Regions from separate parts of the Homo sapiens genome. Here region 1 is linked to region 2. Evidence: fine-mapped expression QTL. A gene starts in region 2. The other region holds a variant in brackets. All regions are shown on one strand. Distances are between the middles of the regions.

Region 1 (8,295 bases), 36 kb after region 2:
CACACTGTCCCCCACACACGCAGCACTGACTGCCCCTGGGCCTCTCTCAGCGAAGTGCATCTGGCCTATATACAAGATATATCTCTTCCCTCCAGTTCAAGGTGGCAGCAGTCATCAGACAAGTTCCTGCTAATGTGCTAAGGAGAAGGCCCTTCCAGATCACCAGGGCCTCTCAGGGACAAGTTTGCCCTGTCTGTCACTAAATTGTTTGTCATGGTGAACTCTCGGGCATAAGAGAGGAGAGACTGGAACAGATACGAATTGCTCTTAATGAACCAAAACCCACAGCTTCAAAGGAAAATCCCAGAGGTAGACTCTCCAGGTGGGGTTGAGGAGACCAGCTCAGTCCCTCTTGAGTCTTTCTTTCCCCAAAGGGATATTTTAGTTCCAAAAGTGACAAGGTAACCAGATGGTATCCTCCAGGTGGAGAACAGCCCACAACTAGGAAGCAGAGTCTCATTCCTTGAGGAGGAAGAGGGGAGTGCTAGTACCCGGGGCTAGTGGAAGAGGGTAGGGTGTGGGCCCGGCTCGTTGTGGGGCAGCTGTTTACTTCACTGCAGCCTGCAGCCCTCCCATTTCCCTACAGCCCACCCAGGGCTGCGCTCAGCTCCAGTGAAGGTTTGTGCAGTTAGGATCTGAGAGTTTAAGCGTACTATATAGGTTTTACCTTTTTATTCTGGAAATTTGCAAATGTACACAAAAGTAAGGAAACTCTTATAATGGGTCCTTGTGTATCTACGCCTAGCTACAACTATCAATGGCTTATCTTATTTAATCTATCAACCTTTTAAAAAAAATCTTTTTGAGGTCAGGCACGGTGGCTCACGCTTGTAATCCCAGCACTTTGGGAGGCCGAGGCCGGCGGATCACCTGAGGTCAGGAGTTAGAGAACAGCCTGGCCAACACGGCGAAACCCGGTCTCTACTAAAAATACAAAAAATAACCGGGCGTGGTGGTGGACGCCTGTAATTCCAGCTATTCGGGAGGCTGAGGCAGGAGAATCGCTTGAACCCGGGAGACGGAGGTTGCAGTGAGCTGAAATAGCACCACTGCACTCCAGCCTGGGCGACGGAGCGAGACTCCGTCCCAAAAAGAATAAATAAATAAAAATAAAAAATATTTTTGGTAAGTATTCTTAGTATTTTAAAACAAATCCCAGCCATGACATCATCTTACCCGTTAATTAAATGGCACTAATTAAATGGTGCTTGAAATATTACAAACATCTATGTTCGACCATACCACCTAGAGTTCTGGGCAAGAAGGTTGGGACCCACAGGTCAAGCCTAGCCCCTTAGTTTTACCATGAAGATAACTCAGGCCGTCGGAGAAAGTGGCCTGCCCAACGCAGGTGCTAGAGCGCGAACCAAGAGAAGTCGATCCTCCTGGTCTCCCCGGCTGCCTGGTGAGTGGCAGACCACAGGCTAGACTTCCCAGGCCCCGGCCCTGGAAGGGGCGGGGAACCCTCCCCCTCACTGCCAGCTGGAAGAATCCGAGCGGTCCCCGCACGCACTTCTGGAAGTGCAAGCCGGTAGCGCGGCGGGCCAGGGATACAGCCAAGTCCCGGGACGTGCCAGCTGCGGTAACTGAAGCCGGGTCCCGGGCGGGCGGGGGTACCAGGGACAGGAGTAGCCTTGGAAAGAGGAGAGGGCCTCCTCCCACGACCGTCCGGATCACCGCCTCTCCGCCGGCACCCCCGGGGCCCATGCCGCGAACAGGCCGGCGAGGCTGGCAAGGTGCCCGGGCCCGGGGCGGAAAGCAGGAAGTCGATCCCGCGGGCGCGGCCCAGGGTGCGGCGCTGCAGATGCAGCACGGGGTCGCGGGGCGGGCGCCCAGTGCACCGGAGGAGGTGAGCGCCAGGTCGCCTTCGCGGCCCGGGGACACAGGCAGGGACGCGGGAGCTGATGCGGCTGGACCGGCCGGGGAAACAGTATTTTCTGGAAGGGGTAAGAGATGCTGTCTTGAGCCTTTGGAATCTCGGATCCGGGCCGCCCAGAGGACCTCGACAGGAGCACAGGGAGGACAAACTGAAGTCCGAGAGAGGCGGCGTGGCCTCCGGCCTCGGGGAGCGCTGCCGGGGGTCTCGGGCTTGGGAGAGGGCCTGGGGGCGGTGAAAATGGGGGGAAAGGAGGGGACCACAACATTGTTATGGAAGAGTGAGCTCGGATTGGCAGAGGGACGCGGGGCTGCAACGCGAGTCTCCGGAGGTGGAGGGGTCCAGGCTGATGTAGCGCCGCCCGGGTCCTGGGTCGGGGTTCCGGGAAGTGGACCTGCGAGCCAAGCCTAGCCAAGTCGGGGGACGGAGGCTCCGGGGCGGACGGAGCTGAGGGTGGGCAGGCGAGGTTGATGGAGCCCTTCCAGGAAGCAGGGCGAGGCTCAAGCACCCAGAAAAACCTGTGGCTGCCGAGGTCCCCCGCCAGCAGCGGGCAGCGGAGCGCAGGGGCGGGGCTGGGGACTGGCGAACTCCGCCTCTCTGGGGCTGTCGCTTTAAGGGCAAGGCGGGGCGTGCGGGCCCTTTAAGGCCACGTGGGGGCGTGTCAGGAAGTGAGTCCAGGGCCCGCCTCCCGGGGAGTCGGCCTCGGATGTCCGGAGGCTCCTGGGCTGAGCCGGCGACAGAGCCCGGGAAGGCAGCGAGACGTGGGCGCCGGCCCAGCCCCCTCCCGCGTCCTTCAGCCCCAAGCCCCGAGCCCCTCTGACCCTTCCGCAGCCCTCCCTCCAGCCGCGCCCGGCCTCCGGCAGCTCCCTGTACGCCTCCCTCCCCCTGCCCGCCCCTCCCTCCCACAGCCGCCCATGACGCCCTCTCGGCACCTCTTCCCACTCTGCCACGCGTCCTTTTCCTGCACCTTCGCCCCGCGTACCTACTCCTGCCCCGCCCTGCCATTCCTCTCCCCTCCCTTCTCTCTGCGACCCCTCCCTGTTAGGCCCCAGCCTCTTCTCCCCTCACAGGTCTTCTCTGTCCTGGCCTCACCGCCTTATCCTATTCCTCTCCCTTGCCCTGTGTCTTGTCTCAGAGCCCCCTCGGGGTGGGAGTAGGTTGTGGAGCAGCACAACTGGGCTCACCCCAAAGCAGAACTTCTCAATCCATGAGGACAATGGGGAGGCCTTTAGGCCAGCCCACATGTGACAATGGAGGGCTGCGGCTTCCTTGCGGAGAGCACAAGTGAGCTCACTGCCCTGGACTCCAGGGAATCAGAGTTCTGGCCGCGGGGTGACCCAGCTCCTCTGCTACCATGAATAGGGCCCCTCTGAAGCGGTCCAGGATCCTGCACATGGCGCTGACCGGGGCCTCAGACCCCTCTGCAGAGGCAGAGGCCAACGGGGAGAAGCCCTTTCTGCTGCGGGCATTGCAGATCGCGCTGGTGGTCTCCCTCTACTGGGTCACCTCCATCTCCATGGTGTTCCTTAATAAGTACCTGCTGGACAGCCCCTCCCTGCGGCTGGACACCCCCATCTTCGTCACCTTCTACCAGTGCCTGGTGACCACGCTGCTGTGCAAAGGCCTCAGCGCTCTGGCCGCCTGCTGCCCTGGTGCCGTGGACTTCCCCAGCTTGCGCCTGGACCTCAGGGTGGCCCGCAGCGTCCTGCCCCTGTCGGTGGTCTTCATCGGCATGATCACCTTCAATAACCTCTGCCTCAAGTACGTCGGTGTGGCCTTCTACAATGTGGGCCGCTCACTCACCACCGTCTTCAACGTGCTGCTCTCCTACCTGCTGCTCAAGCAGACCACCTCCTTCTATGCCCTGCTCACCTGCGGTATCATCATCGGTGAGTGGCAGCTGGGGCCACGGGGGATAGAGTGGTCATGGGGACTGAAGCAGTGAAGAACAACTCTTCTAGGCATCCTAGGACTTCATCTGTCCCAGCTCCTTTGGTGCAGCAGTCATAGGAGAAAGAGCCTGGGGGCACAGAGAGAGCAAGTAACTTACTAAAGGTCACCCAGCAAGTTAGGAGCCCAGCCGGGGCAAGAACAATAGTAATAATAATAGTAACAACAGCAGCAAAAGCAACTGACATTTGTTGAGTGATTAAAATGTGCCAGGCACATGGATCTTAGCCATATTAACTCAGCTAATCTTCATAACAAGATGGGATTATAATCCACATTTTACAGAGGGAAAAACCAAGGCACAGAGAAGTTAACTAACTTGTCCAAGATCACCCAGCTAATAAGTGGCAGAGCTGGGATCTGAACTCAAGCAATCTGGCTTCACAGTTCACATGCCCGACCACTGTACTTTATTGTTTCTCAAGAGCTCAGGTGTCCTGATTTCCCAGCCAGTGCTCTTAGTAGAGGACAATACGTCTTTTAATAAATATACCATCACTCTCTGCCAGCTCAGGATAGCGCCTGAGACAGTAGCAAGCAATATGCTTTGAGAGGCCTCAGCTGTCTTCCTGGACTTGACCCTCAGAAAATAATAATTATTGATGGGGAAATTATGCTAATTATTTCACATATAGCATCTCCTTTGTTCTCCCAGAGATCCCCTGGGTTGTGGCATCACTACCAGCGGTCATCTCTATACAAACAAGGAAACTGAGGCTCAGAGATGTTACATTACTTGCCCAC[G/A]GCCACACAGCTAGCAAGCAGCCAGGCTGGGATGCAAACCCAGATTGGCCAGACTCCCAGGCCTGTGCTTCTATCCCCTCTGCTCGTCTTGGAGGTTAGAACTGCAGTATTCAATGCAGTAGCCATTGGCCACTTATTTAAATTAGTTAAAATTAAGCAAAATGTTAAACATTCACTTCCTCATTTGCAGATGTTACAACCTGATTTTCTAGCCACATTTCAAGGGCTCAGTAGCCAAATGTGGCTGAGGGCTATGGTATGGGACAGCACAGGTTAGATGGGCCCATATTTTACTGGGCCCCATGCTGCGTTAGAGAGCCTCCAGCATCCCATTCCCTCCGAGTCTTCCCAGGGCTGCGTCATCTAGGAATGGGGTCTTCATTTGAACCTATGCTGGTTTTTCCTGGTGCTATAAAGTTTATCTTATTTGGCCTACATATCATATTCTTTGCTGATGGCTCAGGGTCCCAGGCTAGATGCACCGGTTGGTGGGGGAAGGGACCCATCCCATGCCACCTGTCCTAGAAAATGTTTCCCCTTGTTGAGCAGCTGCTGGATCTAGGGCTGCTGGGTCTAAGTCCAAGAGGGGAGAAGGGAGAAGGTCACAGTTAGAGTAGGGGAAGCTGCAAGACCCCCCCTGCCAGAACTCTCCCAGCCTGCTTCCATTTCCCTCTCCAGGGAACAGGTGTACCTCCCCTCCTCCCTGTCCTCCTCAGATGCCCCAGGGCTCTCTACTTCATTCCTGCTGACCCTGCCAGGAGTGGCCTCAGGGGTAGAGGCTCCTAGTTGGAGAATTTGCTTGCAGGAAGGTGAAGACACTAGGGTAACTGGGCCCAAATCCCAAAGGTAATCCAAGTAACCAGTGGTGAGGTTCTGAGAATGGTGCATTCACGGGCGTGCCTGACTGGGACAGGGGCCAGGGAGGTGGACGCTCTCTGCCAGCCCAGGACCTGGCTCCCTATCTGCAATGTTTCCTCTTTCTTCCTCCTTGTAGGGGAAGACGAGTCTCAGGCAACTATTCTAGGCCTCCCCTCCTAGCCCCCCATGTCACACAGTAACTTTCAAAGCTCCTTCTGGGCCAGGCACAGTGGCTCATGCCTGTAATCCCAGCACTTTGGGAGGCTGAGGCAGGTGGATCACCTGAGATCAGTAGTTCGAGACCAGCCTGGCCAACATGGTGAAACCCTGTCTCTACTAAAAATACAAAAAATTAGCCGGGCGTGGTGGCATGTGCCTGTAATCCCAGCTACTCGGGAGGCTGAGGCAGGATAATTGCTTGAACCCGGGAGGCAGAAGTTGCATTGAGCCAAGATCGCGCCACTGCATTCCAGCCTGGGCGACAGAGCAAGACACAGTCTCAAAAAAAAGTTCTTTCTGGGCAAGAGTCGCTCTAGAACATTGATGTTGCAGTTGCTTCTGGACTCAGAAGGTAACCACCAGGAGGGCTAGGGGTGCTGTAGCCAAGCAGGTGAGTGGGTGGTGCAGCCCTCTGCCCCCCTCACCCTACCCCCAGCAGGTCTGTGGGTACCCCTTGTGCAAAGGTTCTGTCAAGAAAGAGGAGGGTCGGGCTCTGTGGTTGGGCTGGGCATGGTGGCTCATGCCTGTAATCCCAGCACTTGGGGAGGCTGAGGCGGGCAGATCACCTGAGGTCAAGAGTTCAAGACCAGCTTGGCCAACATGGTGAAGCCCCCTCTCTACTGAAAATACAAAAATTAGCCAGGCATGGTGGCGCATCCCTGTAATCCCAGCTACTCAAGAGGCTGAGGCACGAGAATCGCTTGAACCCAGGAGGCGAAGGTTGCAGTGAGCCAAGATCGCACCACTGTACTCCAGCCAGGGTGACACAGCGAGACTCCGTCTCAAAAAACAAAGAGAAAAAGAGAAGAGTGCTGTGTGTTGAGTGCCTATGATGTAGGAAGTATCCTGTCTCCTTTAATACAACCACCTCCATAACAACTTTCATTCATTCATTCCACGACTAGTAATTGGTGGCTAAACACATGCCAGGCACCATGCCAGGCTTTGGGGATACAAGTTTGGAAAAGGTAACCTCAGCTCCTACACTCCTGGAGGGCATGGTGGTGACAGTTACGCTAGCATAGTAAGGGCTGTGATGGGGCATGCATAAAAGGGGCTGTGGGAGCTCTGGGCAAGGGAGGGGACCCGGGGACAGGGCAGTCTAAGCAGGCCTTCTGGAGGAAGTTTAGAAACTGGGTTTAGAGGAAGAAGTAGGGACAGAACATTCTAGATAGAAGGAAGAGCACGTGCACTTCTTCATGGCTGGGCCACAGCAAGACTCACCAGACACAAGGCTGCCCAGTCAGGCCGACTCCACGTGGTGCAGGTCCTAAGAGCTGTGGTGAGTGAGTGGAATTTCTCCTGAAGGCAGTGGAGAGCCACAGAGAGGCTTCACACCAGGGCACAGCCTGGACCGATCTGGACTTCAGGATGATCATATCAGTTGCAAGGTGGAGAGTAGATTGGCTGGAGTGGAGGACAGGGAGGTGACCCAGAGAGCTCAGAGTGGTTAAGTAACTTCTCCCAGGCCACTCAGCTTCTAAATTGCAGAGCCTGATTGGAGGCTAAATCCCTCTGACCCCAAAACTTTCCCCACTGCCCCGTGTTGCCAGATGCTGTGGCAGGAAGTATAACATGCATTGTTCAGCCCCTGGCTTCTGGGAGCATGGGATCTGGCTAAAAAGACCAGACTGTCACCATGGGCAGGGGCCCAGCAGCCCAGAGCAGGCAAGGGGCTTTGCAGGAAAGCGAGGCAGTAAGAGTCCAGGTTCTGGGATTATCAGGAAAGGATTCCCCAGGAGAAGCCAACTTTGACCTTGACAGATGAGTAGAATCCCCCAGAAAGGAGGAGGGTGTTTCTGGCACAGGACATGAACAAGGACACTGAGGCCCAGGGTGAGAAGCAGGGAGACGAGCAGGGAAGCTGGGGCGACCATAGGACAGAGGAAGGGCCTGCACCCCCGCCTGCCACGCCAAGGAGTGTAGTCCTCATGGCAGAAGTGGGGAGCCACGGAAGCTCTTTGAGCAGGAAGTGACACAAGATGAGAGTCTCAGAGTCACTGCCCCAAATGACACAAGAGATTCTAACTTAATGTGCCCCATGATGACATCATAGGCTCCCATTCCATGCAAGAAGCAGCCAAGGCTTAGACACTGGAAGTCATTTACGCAGGGTCACCTTAAATCACATTAACCACTAAGTGGCACTCATTCTTCAGAACTCAGTTCAACTGTTATTTTCAGATGCCCCAGGCCAGCACAGTCGCCCACTTACAGGCTCTCACAGCACCTTGTACTACTTTATGGACCTCATTACAATTCTTACAATTGTAATTAAAGAAGTAACTGGGAAGATTTGTTTTAATGTCTTTCTCCTCTGCTAGCAGATAAGCTGCCAGAGGAGGTTTTCTTGCCCTGGGCGGCTCCCATAGTTCATGTGGAGTGCTTTGCCTGCAGTGGAGACTCTGGCTGTGCTTATTGGAGGGAGGCCTGGGGAGGAACGGGGAGGGCCGCAATACTCAGTCTGTGAAATTTGGTGTCTGATCCTCTGTCCTTCTTCCTCCTCGTCCTCATCCCTCTTCCTCACCCTTCCCCACTCCTCCTCTCCCCACTGCAGGGGGCTTCTGGCTTGGTGTGGACCAGGAGGGGGCAGAAGGCACCCTGTCGTGGCTGGGCACCGTCTTCGGCGTGCTGGCTAGCCTCTGTGT
Region 2 (8,324 bases):
TTCAGTGACACTAACCTGCCCCCCAGCCAGCCAGCCTTGGCCCATCAGCACATTCTGTCTCCAGCCTCTGAGATTGGTGCAGGGACGGTATGTGACCTGACCTGAGGCCATGAGACCTGAGACATTTGCTGCCAGCTCCTGAGAAAGAAGCTTCCTCGCTTCCAGAACAAACACTCTCTCTCCTGTTAGACCCGAACAAGGACGCCATCGTGCTCCAATGAGGGTCTGAGAATACATGGATAAGCAGACTGTTTCTCCCACTATACACTCACAGTGGGCTTCTTACACCAGATGGGTGTTTGGGGAGGCGTTCCCACATAGTAAGCAAGCAATCAATTACGCAGCAGACACCAGTTCGGTGTCCTCTAATTCAGTTCACTTCCCCACCTGGAGATAGCGTCAGGTTCCACAGGCTAAGGACTCAGTCCCCAAGATGCTCCCCTTCTCCCGATGCCAATCACAAGTCCCAGAGTATTTTAGCTGTGCTTCTGACCAACTGACTATAATTGAGGTTCCCACAATCCCCTCATTGGTTGGATTAATTTGCTAGAGCAGCTCACAGAACTCAGGGAAACACGTTGACTCACTTATTATAAAGGATACCACAGAGGACACAGATGGGCAATGCATAGGGCAAGGTATGGGGGAGCAGAGCGCCATCCTCCAGGAGCCCCGTGTGTCCAGCTGTCCAGAAGCTCTCCAGACCCTGTCCTTCAGGGTTTTTATGGAGGCTTCATTACACAGGCGTGATTGATTAAGCCATCGGCCATTGGTGATCAACGTAACTTCCAGCCCCTCTCCCCTCTAAGAGAGAATGGGAGTGGGGCTGAAAGCCCCAGTCCTCTAATCCTGCCTTGAACTTTCTGGAGTAGCCCCCATCCTCAAGCTACCTAGGGGCTGCCAGCCAACTGTCAACTCATTAGCATACAAAAAGACACTTACCACTTTGGAGATTCCATAGATTTTAGGAGTAACATGCCAGGAAATGTGGACAACAACTCAATATGTATTTTACGATATCACAAAGGGGAGCCAGCCTCCAGATGAAACCAGCAAAATGGGACCCAGAGTGGAGAGACAAGGACACTGGTCCAGGGGCTACTGATTCAAGCCTCACCTGAAACCCACATCACCTCCAGACTTCTGAGCTATGTGAGCCGCTAATTCCTTCTTGGGTTTAAGCCAGCGAAGTTTCAGCTCTCTACTCCTTGAGACTGAAAGAGTTGACTAACTCCTGTGAGGCTGGATCCATGAAAACAAAGGCTGTCATCATGATCAGGGCTCTCATCCTATCTCAGCTCCATTTCCCTCTGGGTTGGTTTTGCCCTTAGGCAGGCCCTGCTTTCCTAGTGACAAGATAACACCTAAAATCCAAATTCAGCTTAGCAATCCCCCTGGAAAGAAAGTATGTCTTTTATACCAGTCAGGTGTCTGCTGCACCAATGCCATGCAACAAGCACTCTGAAAATCTCAGTTGCTTATAACAACCATTCCTTTCATACTCATGGGTCTGCAGGTTAGTTGGGGGGTTGTTAATATCAGAGTTAGGCTGGACTCCAGTCTCTGGTTAGGTTCAATTTGCCCCACAGTCTCCATCCTGGACTCCAGATGAAGGTGCCATGGTCGCCTGGGTGTACCTTCCTTTCTCATGGTGGGCAGGAGCTCTAGAGGGGCAAGCGGAAACACAAGATACTTCTTTAAGGCCTAGCTTGGAACCCACACATCATCACTTCTACCGACATTCCATTGACCAAAGCAAGTCAGTGGCTGAGCTCACCATGGATGGTGTGGGGAAGAATATTCACCCACAGTGAACCATGCAAGGGAGGGAGGGAATGAAGAAGCCTCAGCAAAACTCCATCAAACACGTCTTCCTCAACAGTGCCTCAAAGATCTTGGAACTGACTCATTGGCCTGGCCTGGGGTCAATGCCTGAGGGAGGTAGGAGTAAGGGTACAGCTAGGGGTCTCCCATATGGGAAGAAGGGTTATTTCCCAAATGGAAGTCAAGGTGTTGCTGACACAAGAAAGGGCAATGGATCCCACATAGGCAATGAATAAATAATTACATAAACCAGCACTCAGCAAACGGCAACGTGAAAATAAATCACCTGAGATGCTATTACAATGCAGATTCTGAGAGCCAGGCATGGTGGCTCCGACTGTAGTCCCAGCTACTAGGGAGGCTGAGGCTGGAGGATCTCTCAAGCCCAGGAGTTCGAGGCTGCAGCAAGCCACAATCGCACCACTGCACTCCAGCCTGGAAGACAGAGCAAAATCTCATCTCTTTAAAGAAAAAAAATTCATTTAATAAAAAATAATGCAGCTTCTGATTCAGTAGGTCCAGGGTGGGGCCTGAGATGCTGCATTTCTTTTTTTTTTTTTTTTTTTTTGAGACGGAGTCTTGCTCTGTCACGCAGGCTGGAGTACAGTGGCGTGATCTCGGCTCAGTGCAACCTCCGCCTCCCAGGTTCAGCAATTCTCCTACCTCAGCCTCCTGAGTAGCTGGGATTACAGGCACGCACCACCATGCCCAGCTAATTTTTAGAGACGGGGTTTCACCATGTTGGTCAGGCTGGTCTCAAACTCCTGATCTCATGATCCACACGCCTTGGCCTCCCAAAGTGCTGGGATTACAAGCGTGAGCCACCGAGCCCAGCTGAGATGCTGCACGTCTAAACAGTCCCAGATGATGCTAGCAAGGACCAGTAGCAATGAGCAAGACTGAAATTGGGAGAGTCTCTCAGCCTTCTGATGCCACATTCTCATTTACAAAATGATAATTCCACCTGCCACACAGACTTTTCTCAGCCAGGAAGATGGTGCCCTCGGGGGGATAAGGTGATGCGACATTTGTGCTGTCACTCACCTCCTGCCTGCCCCCTGCACCTCGAGGCCTCCCTCAGCCCCCAGGAAAGGACTCACAGCCCAGCCAGCAAGGAGACAGGAGGAAGATATCACAAAGTGAGTGCAGCTTCTGTTAACTGCCTTAAGCTGCTCCCTGCAATAATGTTGGTGTAATCCATAAGATTCAATTATGGTTATCAGACAATTAGGCACACCACAGCGAGGTTATTGCATAATTAATGCTCAGTCCCCATCTCAGCCTCTGAGAGTGACACAGGTTACAAGATTCACCTGCCCCGCATCTGGGAGAGGAGCAGGGGCACCCAGGATGGGGAATGACCTCCCTGTGGGCTCAGAGGAGGATGTTCTTAGGACCCCAGAGGCATGGCAAAGGGACAGTGTGTGGCTGAAAGAGCTTGAGTCAGTGTGTGCCCAGGGCCCTCACGCCTGCCATTGTGTTTAGGACTTGGGCTTTAATCTCTGGAGCGAGATTCAAATCCTGCCTCAACTACTGATTGGCTATATGGCATTAAGCACTCGCCTTACATTTTTAAAGCCTCCATCTCCTTGTCTTTTAAAGAAGGGAATTGATGATGTTATGAAAACTGGATGAGAGAGTTTGCATATTGGTTAGATGGTTCCTGCAGTACTATTTTCATTATTTCCCTCTCTGAGCCTCAGTGTCTTCATCTGTAAAATGGGAATAATTAGCCTCACCTTGCCTAGGCTTGAAAGATCAGCCGGTAGTTTGAGACCTGCCTGGGCAATATAGCAAGACCCTGTTCACCACAAAAAAGGAAAAAAAAAAGGATGAAAGATCAGTTTGTGAGTCAAGTAAGACACACATGTGAACGGGATGTGTGGAGTGCTTTGCTAACGCGCCATTGTCTTAGTTACTATGTGCCTGGTTTTCTGCTCAACCCTCCAGGGTACGACTTTGTACAAGTCCCCAGGTCTCAACAGGACAGTGGGTGATCAGCCCACCTGAGAAGTGAAACTCATGATTTGGGTGAGTAGACTAGAGGAGAATCACTTCTTTCTTTCTTTTTTTTTAGACGGAGTCTCGCTGTGTCACCCAGGGATCTCAGCTCACTGCAACCTCTGCCTCACCGGTTCCAGTGATTCTCCTGCCTCAGCCCCCCGAGTAGCTGGGATTACAGGCACACGCCACCACACCTGGCTAATTTGTTATTATTAGTAGAAACGGGGTTTCACCATGTTAGCCAGGCTGGTCTTGAACTCTTGACCTCAGACGATCCACCTGCCTCAGCCTCCCAAAGTGCTGGGATTACAGGCATGAGCCACCATGCCCGGCCTGAGAATCATTTCTTGAGCTATGATCTGTAACATTCAAATGAGCCTCAACGGACACAAAACAGAAAAATCATCAAAAATGTCGGTGAAAAGTTCAGGTGGGAGAACTCAGGTGATGGTGCAGACAGAAGCAAGTAGGGGAGAAAGCTGGCTTCAGGGAGAGTGGTTAGGCCTTTGTGAGAAAGACTGGGGACTTCTCATATCATCCTCTGTGTCCCAGTTCCCAAAACACACACGCACATGGGCACATGCATGCAGGCACACAAAAACAAGCCCATACACCAGACGAAAAAATACAGATGCAGGTACACACACATGGACATGGACATGTGTGTGCCTGTGCCCATATAAACAAACATTAGTGCACACACACACTCACACACACACAGGCTCGGGCAGTATGTGCTCACACACAACCATACACACAGATACGCACAGAGGTACATTCACACACAGACCAACACACACAGGCACACAGATGCATGCACGCATGCACGTGCGCGCACACACACACACACGTGCACCCACCCTCAGTGATAACCTTCCAATCCACTGGCCTCTCCGAAATTAGCACAGACCATTTTCCCACGACCCTTTCTCGCTGAGCGTGTGATTCCAAAACTGTCCACAAGAAGGTGCTCGGGAGCCAGAATTCAGGCGTTCCCGGCCCGCGGACGCTTAGAGAGGGGAGCTTCGGAGTTATGGGGGGACCCACCCTTCCATTTAATAACTGAGAAAGCCACGGGAGGGGACTTGCTGGGCTCACAGCCAGTGATCCCTGCCCTGTTTCCTTATGGGGACTGCGGTCAGAAATGGGGAGTGGGGCAGAAACTGTCACTGTCACGGTCCTGTTTAGAGAGGAAGGTCGGAGAAACCAGTGCCGTGGAAGGCTCTGGGGCGTTGACAGGCGCTGTCCCCAGCTCACCGGCTCTATGACCCTGGGTAAGTTACCTGGCTTCTCTGTTCCTCAGTTTTCTCGTCTTCCCTGACCCAGGCTTTCCCGACTCCTCTAGGGGCCCCTTCCCCTCTCCATGAACACCTTCAGATCTCGGACTGTTTTCTCCACTCAAGTGGCATCTCAGCTATCCCCTCCCGGGTTAGGCCTCCCTGGCCCCTATTTAACGGTGTCCCCACCCCCACCACTATCTTGTTTGTACCAACACTTGCTGCCTGACAATGCACACTTGTTCATTTGTTCACGTTTATTTTGTCTTCTCCAGAAGAATGGAAACTTCGTCAGAGCAGGGACGTGAGGGTGAACTGCTCACCCGGGCACCGCTGGCGACCGGAACCCAGCTCCCTCCGGGCTCCGGGAGAGGCGGCCTCAGCTGTGTGCTGGTGCTGCCCTCCAGCGGCGCTGGGTCCCCATGGCACCTGGCTTTCTCCTGCTCCCCAGGGGCCTTTTCTTCTCCCGCCCACCTGTCACCAGCCGCCAGGGCAAGTCTCTGTGTGACTCTAGGGTGAAGGTGGAGGGACCTTGCCTCCGAGGATTCATCCCACCCGGATTCCGATGAGTGAGGGACCCTCTCTGGCACCTGGTGTTTGAATGGCCAGCCTCACAGTTAATAAAGACAAGTTTGGTATCAGCTGTGGGATCCGTCCAGAAAAAGACACCTTTGGGGCAGAAATATAATGGTGCCTGTCTCGACATAGTCTAATAAGGAAAGAAAGACAAGCCAGTCCAACGGTCCCATTTTACACATGAGGTCACTTCATCCCCACCTAGGACAGGAGGGTACAACGGCCTGGCCTAAGATAACCCTAGAATATGGTCACTCATTCTTCCACCCACTGAGAACCTCAGGGCAGTAGAGTTTTATGCAAAGCATGTGGTCCTGAAAAACTTGCATAATTCAAAGCGTGCATAATTTCTGACTAATTTTGCCAGAGAAATGAATGCAAAGTAGAAAGGATAGGTTGCATACATTACTCCAATTGTGGCATATTTTTGCCTTAATGCTGCTTTTTATTTCCCTGGCATTATCGCTAATATTTCATAACGCACTCTCTGCTAAATTAACAGTGCAGCATTTCCTGCCGGTGGTTTGGCCTTCTTCATAACGTTTTATCACATCTCACTTCCTTTCCAATGTTATCGATTTTCAGGTGCGTTTTTCAGCACCACCACTTAAAGAACACTTGGATGACATTGTTACAGGATATGGGTAAAATATTTAAAGTTATAATAACTGTGAACATTGAGAAAATGGCACACCAGTCACCAGAATCTCCTGCAGAAATTAGAAATTCAGAGGCATGTAAACAACAGTGCATGCATATAGAAAGCAGGTATTTCTATTTAATAACCAAAGCAACGTCGCCATGTGGCAGGTTTACAGTCCTCATTTAACAGCTCACTTAGTTCCTCCGACTCAAGGAAACTGCAATTCTTGACAGGTTTTTTTTTAACTGAGGGGCTTGGCATTATTTCCAGCTTAGTGCATAAACATGTATTAGCATTTTTATATTGCACCTTGCCAAAGTCACAGTTTAGACTCCCATAAACAGTGACTTCACCCTAAATGGTCACCCTAAATGGTTAAGGCTGTGTCCTTAACCCCAGAAGGGTGGAAATGTATGACTCCACCTAGTCATCTCAGATACGGATTTCAGAAATCTCAGCCACCCACCTCATACTTACACAGGGACCTTTTTGGAGGCAGCATCATCTGAGGCCGCTCTTGCCCAATTTGGCTGGCCCCACCTCCTCCCCAACGTCATCTTCTCTTGCAGTCTAGAGAGGGGGGCTACTCCCCCAATATAGCATCCATATTTAGATCCATGTTGGAGGGTGGGTAGAAAGGGGAGGTAGGATGAGGGAAAATTGAGTCTCAGTTTCACACATTTGTAAGATCGTCAGACTTTCCACATTGCCAAGAAACTCGTCAGCACAACCGCTGTGAATTGGCTTCTTGGCCTTCGTCTGCCCAGAATTGCTTCCAGAATGGCTCCTTCAGCTTGGCCTGAGCTTGGCCCCAGAAAGAGTGCCACGGGCCCTAGGAAGGAGGAAAAGTGGGGCATTCAGGGCAGGCTCTGAACCCACTTGGATTCCAGTCCTGATTCCATTTGCATGTGACCTTGAGCAAGTCTCTATGCAAGGCACTTCACCTTTCTGGGCCTCAGTTTCCACCTCTGTCAAATGGGGATAATAATACCATCTACTTCCCAGAATTGGTGCCAGAATGAAAAGCAGTCCCTGCTGTGATAGTGTCTAGAACAGAGTAAGTGCCCAATAAATATTCCTTCGCTCTTGTTGCAGTTAGAAAAGCGACTGGATGAGGCGTACATTTACTGGTACCCTGGGATGTATAAGGGCCAGTGTCCGGGTGAGGCGATCCTGCCCCTCGGAGAATTTATGGTCCAACTTTGGAGAGTGAACCTGCCCTCCCACTAATTCAAGAATTCACCAGCCAGGAGAACTGCATGTGGAATTGCCCGGTCCAGCCCTGACTTTGCGCAAGTGTCCATCAAGTCTCCTTCTGCCTCTGGGCTGCCTCTGAGACTTGAGGGGGAGTAAACAGGAGCCTAGGGGTCTCTCCACCCTCCAGGTGCCCCATCAGGCCGGCACCTCCCCACCAGCCCACCCCTCCCCTTGCAGCAGCAAATCTGCAAATGTGCCTTGCAAGCATGTCCAGTGGGCCAGAAGCCACACTCATCCTCCCCACCCCTTCAGAGGACAGCAGAGGTGCCTGGCCCAAAGGCGGTGGTTGGAGCCTGGGCTTCCTGCCTGGGGTGGGGTGGAGAGGGATCTGCCTTCTCTTCTGGGCCCCTGCCCCCCAGGTTTTTCTTCCTCGATACTCACGTTCCTTTCCCTGGACAATCCCTTGCTCTATGAGGGCCTCAGCTTTCCCCTCTGAAAAATGGGCAGCCTGGACTTCTCCAGCTCCTCCAGCTAAGACATTCATCTCCCTATCTCCACACCAGCCTCGCCGCCAACACCCCGGTCCCTCTCTCTCTCCTCTGCTGTTGTGGGGGCCTGTCCCTGGGGTCACTGAGGCTACTGCTGGCTGGGCTCCCAAGCACCAGAGAAGGACTCCACAGAACAATAGCAGAAGGAAGGGGGCCATTCTTCAGGAGGAGAGAATGAAATGGCCTAGCTCAGCCATGCCTGCCCTAGGTCCAAAGCCCCCAGCTCCATTCCTGCCTCTTCTGCCATGTTCCCAT

Evidence for each region. PIP is the estimated chance that this variant, and not a neighbour inherited with it, causes the effect.
Region 1: its variant is fine-mapped to the expression of LINC02716 in visceral fat (GTEx, PIP above 0.99). The same link has a PIP of 0.9 or more in cerebral cortex.

The regions. Positions count from the first base shown.
Region 1 is chr11:45,802,572-45,810,866 of GRCh38, forward strand. It overlaps SLC35C1 (solute carrier family 35 member C1), which reads left to right and starts at 2,578. Exons shown (of 2, transcript NM_018389.5): 1 at 2,578-3,765; 2 at 8,205-8,295. The coding sequence starts at 3,231. RefSeq lists enhancers at 1,373-1,532, 4,797-4,856 and silencers at 1,703-1,872, 2,603-2,832. The variant G/A (reference allele first, on the strand shown) is at 4,571.
Region 2 is chr11:45,766,613-45,774,936 of GRCh38, forward strand. LINC02716 (long intergenic non-protein coding RNA 2716) reads left to right here and starts at 4,820. Exons shown (of 2, transcript NR_027134.1): 1 at 4,820-5,102; 2 at 5,381-5,746. RefSeq lists an enhancer at 4,512-5,013.